Regions from separate parts of the Homo sapiens genome. Here region 1 is linked to region 2. Evidence: fine-mapped expression QTL. A gene starts in region 2. The other region holds a variant in brackets. All regions are shown on one strand. Distances are between the middles of the regions.

Region 1 (5,378 bases), 180 kb after region 2:
TCCAAGTCAGCTACTGTATATAAATTTAGCCATGACACTGGGGGAGGAATTCTTTCTAATTCTGTATTATTTTGGCAAAAAAATTCAAAGGTAAAAATATTAAGTAACAATAATGTACCAGTTACTTTGTTAGGCAAGACATATAAAGCAGTAAATAAGACATATAATGTCTTTGCCTTTATGGGGATTATATTTGAGTGGGGCTGGGGTGGTAGACAGAACACAAATAAATAATAATGCCAAACGGTGATAAGTCCCACATAGGAAACAGGACAAAGGAATAAAAAAATAGGGCCAGGCGCATTGGCTCACGCCTGTAATCCCAGCACTCTGGGAGGCCAAGGCAGGTGGATTACCTGAGGTCAGGAGTTCAAGACCAGCCTGGCGAACATGGTGAAACCCCGCCTCTACTAAAAATACAAAAATTAGTCAGGCACGATGGTGGATGCCTATAATCCAGCTACTCGGGAGGCTGAGGCAGAAGAATCGCTTGAAGCTGGGGGGCGGAGGTTGCAGTAAGCCGAGATCGCACCATTGCACTGCAGCCTGGGCGACACAGGGAGACTCCATCTCAAAACAAAACGAAACAAAACAAATTACGGTTGAGGTAATATTTTATGTCCATTTTACGGATTAGGAAAATGAGAACAACAGGTTAGGTGAGTTGTTCAAAGACTTCCCAGCTAATAAGTAGTGAATTTAAACTCAGGTTGGTCTGACTCCAGAGTTGTTACTAACCACTGCCCCATGCTATCTCTTTGGCTTCCTGAGAAACCAAAGAATCTGCAGAAGTGATAGGGTTAAGAAGCCATCAGTTTTTTTTGTTTGTTTTTGTTTTTTTCTGAGATGGGGTTTCACTCTTGTTGCCCAGGCTGAAGTGCAATGGCATGATGTCAGCTCACTGCAACCTCTGCCTCTCGGGTTCAAGTGATTCTCCTGCCTCAGCCTCCAAAGCAGCTGAGATTACAGGCGCCCGCCACCACACCTAATTTTTTGTATTTGTAGAGATGGGGTTTCACCATGTTAGTCAGGCTGATCTCAAACTCCTGACCTCAGGTGATCTGCCCGCCTCGGCCTCCCAAAGTGCTGGGATTACAGGTGTGTGCCACCATGCCCAGCTCCATCATTATTTTTAAAAGTCCCTCCATTTAGGACATAAAAATTTCTGAGATCTGTGAACACAAATGAGTGTACTACAAGCTGTCATTCTGATGCTAATGCATCCAACAGTTGAGTTTCTATAGATGATATTGAACATAAAGGTGCTATAATCCTTCATACAACCCTCTGAGAACTGCTTTTTCCGAAAAGAGCAGTAAGAGCACAAAGGCTTACAGAGTTTAAGAAACCTGTTGTAAATAATGGAACTTATAAGCACCGACGCTGTAGTCTAGGCCTCGTGCCTGTGACTACAGTGCTTTTTCCATTACACCATGCTGCCTTCCAGAAGAGTCCCCAAGGAGTTACATTTTTCTCCCACTGGGAGACAAGGCAGTAACTAACTTGGCAGAACAGAAAGAAATGAGTGACTGTTTTGTGTCTCTGCCAAGCAAGTATTCATGCCCTTTGCAATATGACGTGGACACAAAACCAACTGATCTTTAGCAGCTAAGCATTCTAGAATTTGCTGAAGAATTTTCTCACCTTACCCGTATGGGGTCCAAAATTAAGAGGGGAAAAACATATTTATGTCTCATTCAGAATTCAAAAAGCAATAAATCCTTCAAGCCCCTGGCAAGTTTCTTTAATCCACTGTAATCATGTTTCCTTGTATAACAAGTCTTGTGATGTCTGCAGCAGCTTCTCGCTAGAGGAACAGCAGCCTCAATGCTGGAGTTCTTCTCATGCCTGGGGGATTATTCCATTTTCCACATTAGGAATAAGCCGCAGACTTTAGGTTCTAAAACGGAGCCAGAAAATGCTGACTAGAATCCAGATGCCCTAAATATAATTAGAGCTAAATTTTACTGCCCTCTGTGAAAGACACAAATGAAAAGAATGTACCAACTTTCAGAATATTGATCCAGAGAGCAAAGTTATGAATAGAGCCAGCATGGGTTCTGCTGCACTGAGAGGCCCTTAAAGCTAACCAGGGGCTTTCCAATTCTCTCCCCTTCTTCTTATCCCTGGGTTTTTAATTTTTATAGAAGCCAAATATATTAGGGAAGGAAGAGGGGCTACAGGCTTTTTTATTTTTATTTTTTTGAAGCAGGGTCTCGCTGTCGCCCAGGTTGGTGTGCAGTGGTGCAATCACTGCTCACTGCAGCCACGACCTCCTGGGTTCAAGCAATCCTTCCCCCTCAGTTCTCCAAGTAGCTAGGACTACAGGTGTGTGCCACCACGCCCAGCTAATTTTTATTTTTTATTATTATTTTTTACTAACTTTTTGTAGACATGGGGTTTCACTCACGCCCAGGCTGGTCTCACACTCCTAGCCTCAAGCAATCATCCCACTTCGGCCTCCCAAAGTGTTGAGATTACAGATGTGCACCCAGACTTACAGGCTCATTTTTTTTTTTTTTTGAGACAGAGTCTCTCTCTGTCACCCAGGCTGGAGTGCAGTGGCGTGATCTTGGCTCACTGCAAGCTTTGCCTCCTGGATTCACGCCATTCTCCTGCCTCAGCCTCCCGAGTAGCTGGGACTACAGGTGCCCACCACCATGCACAGCTAATTTTTGAATTTTTAGTAGAGATGGGGTTTCACCGTGTTAGCCAGGATGGTCTCGATCTGGATCCACACGCCTCGGCCTCCCAAAGTGCTGGGATTACAGGTGTGAGCCACTGTGCCCGGCCCAGGCTCATTTTAATAAACCAGGTTTTCACTCAGCTCTAGAACTCTCTGGAGGTGTCCTTACACACACACACACACACACACACAC[T/ACT]TTAGGTTTTTAGAGATTGATTTGATAAGAAAAAAAATTTTTCCTTTACAGCCAATGACTTCTCTCTACATCTTTAATAAGGCTGTGATTGTTGATGACGATGATGATAGATGTGGCATCTGTTGAGTGTTTACTATGTGCCCAAGAACTGTGCAAAGTGCTTCAAATACATTATATTACTTAATCCTAACAGTACCCAAACAAGGTTGCTATTTCCATTTTATAGTAAAGGGGCCAAGTCCTAGGATGACTCTGCAACTTGCCCAAGGTGTCACACAGCAAAGAAGCAGTAGAGCTATAATTTGAAAATAGGGGGTCAGACTCCAGAACCTATTCGGCAATAAAAGGTAAAAGCCCTGTCCCCTCTGCAAAAAGCCACTGCTTCTAGCTACTCGCAATGACTTTCACAGAAATAACTTTCTGTATTTGTCTTTCGTTTGGGGGATATTTAATTAAATGGTATAATTAAAACAACAAGTCCATCTGGCATTCCCAGGTTTGGCAAGAAACAAGAATGACTCTTGGAAAGCCCAGGCCTCAGCTGGTGGGAGCAGAAGTGTGCTGGTGTCCTAGGAACCAGGCTGCCAGCTAAGAATGTTCAGCCTCCCCCCGTACTTTACCGAGGGGGTGCGGAGTTAACCAACTGGGACATTCCATTAATGGAAAGTCAATTAGAAAAGATTTACTGAATACATAATTTTTTAATTTTTAATTTTGAGACAGGGTCTTGCTCGTTCACCCAGGCTGGAACGCAGTAGTGCAAGTCATGGCTCACTGCAGTCTCGACCTCTTGGGTTCAAGCAATCCTCCCACCTCAGACTCCCAAGTAGCTGGGACTTCAGGTGCATAACACCATGCCTGGCCAATTTTTGTATTTTTTGTAGAGATGGGGTTTCACCATGTTGCCCAGGCTAGTCTCAAACTCCTGGGCTCAAGTGATCCGCCTGCCTTGGCCTCCCAAAGTGCTGGGATTATAGGCATGAGCCACTATGCCTGGCCAATTTTTTTACAAAAGCATACTACACCTGTTGTTTTTCAACCTGCTCTTGTCACTTAAATGATTTAATCATTCCTCTTCCTGATATGCTCTCAGGTTTGTCACAAACACCTTTGGTTTTGCCACCATCCTGTCTTCCTGGGACCACCACCTTCTTATGGAAACTGCTTTTTCCCCCACACCAACCACGTTCCTTTACAGACTCTGCCTCTCTAGTCTAACTTGACTGGTCCCAAAATGAGCAAGAGAGCCAGCTGGGCCCACATATGAGAGTTTGGGGTGTGAGAAGTCCAGGGCCAGTGCATGCCAGGCAACTGAAGCTATGGATTATGAGGCTCTGGAGCTGCCAGTAGTCACACTTCCTGTCTAGCAGAAGACGCCAGTCTGCAGGGAGAGAACCTGTTCCTATCAGAACTGTAGAAAAAAGCTAACTTTTCTTTCCATTATGTTCAATGCTCCAACACTCTCCACCTATGATAATTCAAGGTGGGTTTATGTCACTTGAAACCAAGAGTCCTGAATCATTTAAAAATGATGCCAGGAGTAAAGAGTTGAAAGTAACCAAGTCTAAATGCGGGAAGGGCTGACATGAATTGGGATGGGAGGCCATAAGAAATATCCCATCCAGGGTGGAGAAATTCCCAAGTTCTGTTACAAAGTACTGAACCAATTGGTTCAACAAGACTGAAGGTTTAGCAGACCATTCTGAGGGAAGTATCTGATTATTGAGGATCACTGTCTACTTTTTGCAACATTCCATACATTTTGAAGGGAGGCCTCTTCTGCTTTTGGTCAGCAACCTGAGTCCTCTCAAGCTTACAAAGGCTGAATTTTCTGCTGCAAGCTGAAGTCAGTAGTAGTTAGGGAAAGAGTGGGAGTATGACAATGGATAGAAATATCTGAGAGGGGCCGGGCATGGTGGCTCACGCCTGTAATCCCAGCACTTTGGGAGGCGGAGGAGGGCAGATCACCTGAGATCAGGAGTTTGAGACCAGCCTGATCAACATGGCAAAACCCCATCTCTACTAAAAATTCAAAATTAGCTGGGCATGATTGCACATGCCTGTCATCCCAGCTCCTTGGGAGGCTGAGGTGGAAGAATCGCTTGAACCCAGGAGGCAGAGGTTGCAGTGAGCAGAGATCGCACCATTACACTCCAGCCTGGGCAACAAGAGCAAAACTCTGTCTCAAAAATAAATAAATAAATAAATAAATAAATAAATAAATAAATAAATAAATAAATAAATAAAAATATCTGAGAGGAGCCAGGGCCCTTGTGTTACATATTTATGTATGTTACGATGTTTGAACATCTTTTAAAAAACCTTTCTAGCTGGGAAGACTGCCCCTGGGGGGGTGGCGAGAGGATAGTTAATTCTTAGAGCCAGCAAAGGGCCCAGCCAGGAGTACACTTCTGACATGCGAACTAACCAATTCAGAGCCACACCTCCTCTATCTGGCCCAACACCCGAAGAGGCAAAATTCCTCTGCTTTCATCATCC
Region 2 (5,378 bases):
GCCCTATAACTAGAAATACGAAAACTACAGCCCTCAAATTTCTTTAATATTAAGATTTGAGAGACATAAAATTAGTCTATCGAATTGCTATAAAAGTTTTAAATGTTCATTCTCCGTTTCTGTATCTAGCTTTTGGGGACTAGGAACACCTGGTGCTCGAACCCCTCTGGATCACACTTGGGTAGCACCGTGCTAGCCTCCCGGATCAGCGGGAAAGACGTGGTGGCTGTGGCTGGGAATGTTACAATAGTCAAGGTAGACCTGTGAGACGGTGTCCACGAAAATGGTTGCCACCCGGAGGCTGAGAACTGCTGTTCTAAGTGATGCTGAGTCCCTTAAGGGACGTTACCAAATATTTTATTCATTTTCTACAATGGTATTGTTTGAATCATTTGCTTAAATTACTATTAAAAAAATTCTTCATGTCAAAATAAGTGAATAAAATGAAATATCTTAAGGCAGGGTTTTTTTTTTTTTCCTCCCTAGATGAAAGCAATGGTTCTCAACCTTGACTGCATATTGGAATCACCTGGGACTTTAGAAGCTACTGCTGCTGGTTCCCACCTCAGATGAGTTGGGGATGCAACCTCAGCAGCAAGATTTTTAAAAGCTCCCCCCTGGTTCTAATGTGCAGCCACCTCTCTTCCATGTGGGACAATGATGGATAAAGTTTTCTGATTGAGAATTTATGTAAAAACGTAGCACAGTAAGAGTACTCCAAAACTATCAGTTAAATTTAAATCTGATACCTGATATTGTTTGTTTTCAGTGCAATGATCTCATGTATACTGGATGTTACGAGTTTTGAGTTTTCTTCAACCCTCCCCACCAAATACCATTAAGTATTTTAATTACAATTGATAGGATACATATCTTTCACTATAGCTTATTACATGTAATATAGTGTCAATAAATATTCTTATAAATGAAAGCTTGTGAAATCTTGATTCCCCTATTACTTACTTCCCCTGATGTCACCCCAGTGATTACTGTTGCAGCAATGACGGCAACAGTATTTAGTATTTAGATGTCATATAGTTTTTTTGTTTTGTTTTGTTTTTTGAGACGGAGTCTTGTTCTGTCACCCAGGCTGGAGTGCAGTGGCACAATCTTGGCTCACTGCAGCCTCTGCCTCCCGTGTTCAAACAATTCTCCTGCCTCAGCCTCCCTAGTAGCTGGGATTACAGACACATGCCACTATGCCCGGCTAATTTTTGTATTTTTAGTAGAGACAGGGTTTCACCATGTTGGCCAGACTGTTCTCAAACTCCTGACCTCAAGTGATCCGCCCGTCTCAGTCTCCCAGAGTGCTGGGATTACACGCGTGAGCCACCGCATCCGGACTCCCAAGTAAGATTTCATTAGAACACCTTGCCATGAGTGTGCCTAATAAACCCAATGCAACTATTGCTGGATTTTTTTTTTTTTTTGAGACGGAGTCTCGCTCTGTCGCCCAGGCCGGACTGCGGACTGCAGACTGCAGTGGCGCAATCTTGGCTCACTGCAAGCTCCGCTTCCCGGGTTCACGCCATTCTCCTGCCTCAGCCTCCCGAGTAGCTGGGACTACAGGCGCCCGCCACCGCGCCCGGCTAATTTTCTGTATTTTTAGTAGAGACGGGGTTTCACCGTGTTAGCCAGGATGGTCTCGATCTCCTGACCTCATGATCCACCCGCCTCGGCCTCCCAAAGTGCTGGGATTACAGGCGTGAGCCACCGCGCCTGGCCTATTGCTGGATTTTTAACATACAACTCCTTCAAATTATTTATTCAAATATTATTTTGGAATATTAAAAATATATTTTTAGAATAGTAATTCAAATGTTTAGTTTTTGTTTTTTTTTTTTCTATTTTGTTAACACGTTCTTGATGTGCTGAAAACTGAACATTCAGTGGTTCACTCGTTCAGTAAACAGTTTTTGGGCACCTGAACTTGGTTGTGCTAGGCACTGGGTAATCAAAGTTTAAGCCCCAAGTTCTTCCAATAGCAAATAGTACAGCTGCATGCCACTAGCTTCTTACACACAGGTGGGTGACATACATGCCAAATGAAAATAATTTTACCCTTTCCCTCTATAATTTCAAGTACACTTTTAATTTTTGATATTATAGCCCTATTTGCTTAAACACTCTTCCATCTCTTCTCCTCTCCTTGTCTCCTTTTTTTCTTTTCTTTTTTTTTTTTTTTTTTGAGACAAAGTCTCACTCTGTTGCCCAGGCTGGAGTGCAGTGTCACGATCTTGGCTCACTGCATCCTCCTCCTCTCAGGTTCAAGCAATTCTCCCACCTCAGCCTCCTGAGTAGCTGGGACTACAGGCGTGCGCTACCACACCAGGCTAATTTATGTATTTTTAGTAGAGATGGGGTTTCACCATGCTGGCCAGGCTGGTCTTGAACTCTTGACCTCAAGTGATCCGCCTGCTTCGACTAGGATTACAGGTGTGAGCCACTACACCCGGCCCCCTCGTTTTTTTAAATAAAATTATAACATTAGGTGGGAAAAAACACTTTAAAAGTAGTTCTGTCAACTATTTTGGGGGCTGTGGGCCAGTCATTTAATCCATCTGAACCTGTTTCCTCTGCTGTGAAAGGGTGATACCCTCCTTGCCCTGTCCATCTCAGTTGTTATGGGGATTATGGAAGAAGCTATATGTAACATTAACATCAGAAATTTAAATATCCAGTTAAAGTGTAAATGGATATTATAAAACAATCTTTAAAAGAAACAAAGACACTATATATATATATATGGCTTATGCATCACTAGCACTTTGGGTTTCCGAAACCCCAACATGAAGTTTCACGAAAGTTGCATTCCATGGGAGTTTGCTTCCATGATGGATTTTTTACTTTGTACTTAGCTCCTGAAAAAGAAACTTCCTGGGTTTTCTTTTTTCCTCCTACGGTTTTGCAGCGGCTTGGCTGCTTCCTGTCAAGAGCCACTCTGCCAAGGCCCCGTCTCTAGAGTCTCTCCCCCTCCCCTTTCTCTTTCTTTCCAACACTTGCTACATTGAGAGGCTGATCCTGTGCAGAAGCCCTCCCTGCCTCGGCAGCGCGGCGCAGTGAGCATGCTCGGCCTCCTGCGGGAAGAGGAAGCGGCGGCATAGGAGTCATGCCAAGCATAGCCCTCATGTCAGCGCTGCCGGCTTGCAGCGGGCTGTGAGAGGGGCCGGCGCCGCTTTGTCCTAGGAAACGGGCTGCGCGTTTCTCTTTTTCACTCTTTTCCATTTCCAGGAAGGACTTGTAAGGACTTCTGAAACGCTGTTTTCATACTCGATCGGGGATACAGTACATACACCGTCTACCAGTAAGCCCTTGAAGGGTTTCGTGTGAGCTCGATTTTTTTGTGCCTGATTTTTTTTTTTTTAACTTTTGCATACTTTGTTTTGATAGTCTGAGGCTGGGCCTCTGCCTTTGTGAAGTTGAAGAGCCAGGAGCTACTCAGCAACAATTGATTTTTGAAACTTAACTCTTTTGGGGCAAAAGCAAAGAGCTGGTTTTCTTTGCTAGCCCAATAAATGCTATTTATGAAGATGGACCTGTTGAACTATCAGTACTTGGACAAGATGAACAACAATATCGGCATTCTGTGCTACGAAGGTAGATGTCCCGTTGTAGAATTACTGCCCGTTGCTCGTCCCGGCCACTCCTCCTCAGTGTGCTGGGTGCCTGCCTTCTAAGCGCCCGCTGTCCTCCTCCGGGGTGTAGGGCACTTGAAAGGCCGGCGTTTCTTAGGTTCGGTTCGGCACCGAGTGTGTTCGGATCTCAGGCTGCGGGGGGCGGTGGAGGGGGCTGGACGGGGAGGCAGTGAAGTAGAAACCCTTCAAAGTTTGCTCGTTGCTTGCAACGTACTCGCGCCTCACATTTTTAACTCTTTAAAATGTATGTATTTTTGATTTCCGTTAATATTGTCTTTAGGGGAAGGACTTGTAGGACGCCGGTAAAAGTTGAGCCTCTTTGGGGGAGGGGCTGGTAAGGATTGCACCGTCTACTGTACCCTGCTGTGGGCCACGGCGCCCTGCAGCTCACGGAGGGGGAGCCAAAGTTACAGCGAGTTTTTGTGCTCGCGAGTGAGCGTCCCAAACAGCGGAGAATGTCCCTCTCCCGCGTGGGGCCGGAAGGGCACCGTGTCAGCGAGCACAGGCGGGCTCTTTGTCTCGCTGGCGCTTCCTGTGCAGCCCGGGGAGCGCTGACACTGGGGGGTGTTCCTCGCGCTCCGCTCCCTGTGGGAGCGATTACACAACACCCCGACCCCCAGCCTGCCCTGAAAAAGAGAGAGCCGCGCCGAACTGTTATTTATTACCTCCTACTGCCCGCGAGGTGCTTCCCCCACTGTCTTGTATTTCCAACTGTCTCTGGTAGCAGTCAGAGAAAAATCTATTTCTTAAGCCCTCGGACATCCTCTACGTGCGATTTGAAAAAGTGGCAATGGCCCTGGGTCTGCCGCCGAGGGCATCTCCGGGGGAGTTCGGCCTGGCAGGAAGAGTGTTTTCTGTTGTAACCACACACACATCCGGGACTCTTCTCTTTCTCATTCAGCAGGAGCAGTTTCCATTTTTTCTCCAATAATACACGGGACATTTCTCTTGAAAAAGAAAACAGTTACAAAAACTTGGGAGGGTGATTCACTTGTATTTTTTTAATCTAAAAACTTCAGGCCTGTTTCCTAATCAGTTGAAAACTCACCCTTTCAAGAGTATTTTTCCCCTTCAAGGAAAAAAAACAACAACAACCCTCATTCACGTTGTTTTTTAAAACTCTATGGATGAGGATCTCATATTTAACGTTTTTTAAAAAGAGTATTTGTTTTTCTTTACTCCTACTAGTTCCTGCTATGAGAATTTTCGTGAATTTCTTTCTTTGCATCTGATGTGTTAAGTAACATCTTGCTTCTGAACTCACTTAAAAAAGGCAGCCGACTTTAGAAAGCCGTAAGCAGCCATTGCTGGGCTTGTTTCCCGTGACATTCACACATTGTAGTCAGGGTTTTGTTTTTCTTGTTTTTTTTTTTTTTAACCATCCCCGCTTCCCCCAACAAGAAAGAAAAACTTCTGAGGCAATTTCTGTTGTATTGTCTTTGCCAACAAGTAATACGATATTTTAAAAACAAAACATAATGGCCTAAGAGAGAAATATAAGATTGTTAGGAAATTGATACCAGATTAGTTTTTCCTGTCTCCGATTGGTGAGGACCAACTTACGGACAGCGAGCCCAGGTCGAGTTGTTGTGTAGCATGCAACACCCAGGAAACTAGAGTGCTCTGCTCTGCTCTTCTCTCTCGGTATTTGGGAGGAAGAAACTTTGATTTTGAAGATTGAGTAGCTATATGGGATAATGGGCTGAAGTCTGTTTGGTTTAAACATCTGCTCCTATTTTCCTT

Which allele goes with the higher level. Alleles are on the strand shown, and positions count from the first base shown. SD is a standard deviation of normalised expression in the study named.
As copies of ACT replace T in region 1, the expression in prefrontal cortex of the gene that starts at base 3,119 in region 2 goes down (small effect, 0.22 SD a copy in ROSMAP).

The links. PIP is the estimated chance that this variant, and not a neighbour inherited with it, causes the effect.
Region 1: its variant is the best candidate, but not a certain one, in a credible set for the expression of VGLL4 in prefrontal cortex (ROSMAP, PIP 0.66).

Annotation. Positions count from the first base shown.
Region 1 is chr3:11,462,590-11,467,967 of GRCh38, reverse strand. The region is part of intron 20 of ATG7 (autophagy related 7); the gene reads right to left. Among named protein-coding and RNA genes, the nearest start is that of VGLL4, 180 kb to the left of the region's middle. The variant T/ACT (reference allele first, on the strand shown) is at 2,880.
Region 2 is chr3:11,641,656-11,647,033 of GRCh38, reverse strand. It overlaps VGLL4 (vestigial like family member 4), which reads left to right and starts at 3,119. Exons shown (of 5, transcript NM_001128219.3): 1 at 3,119-3,597. The coding sequence starts at 3,516. RefSeq lists enhancers at 2,896-2,975, 4,166-4,535.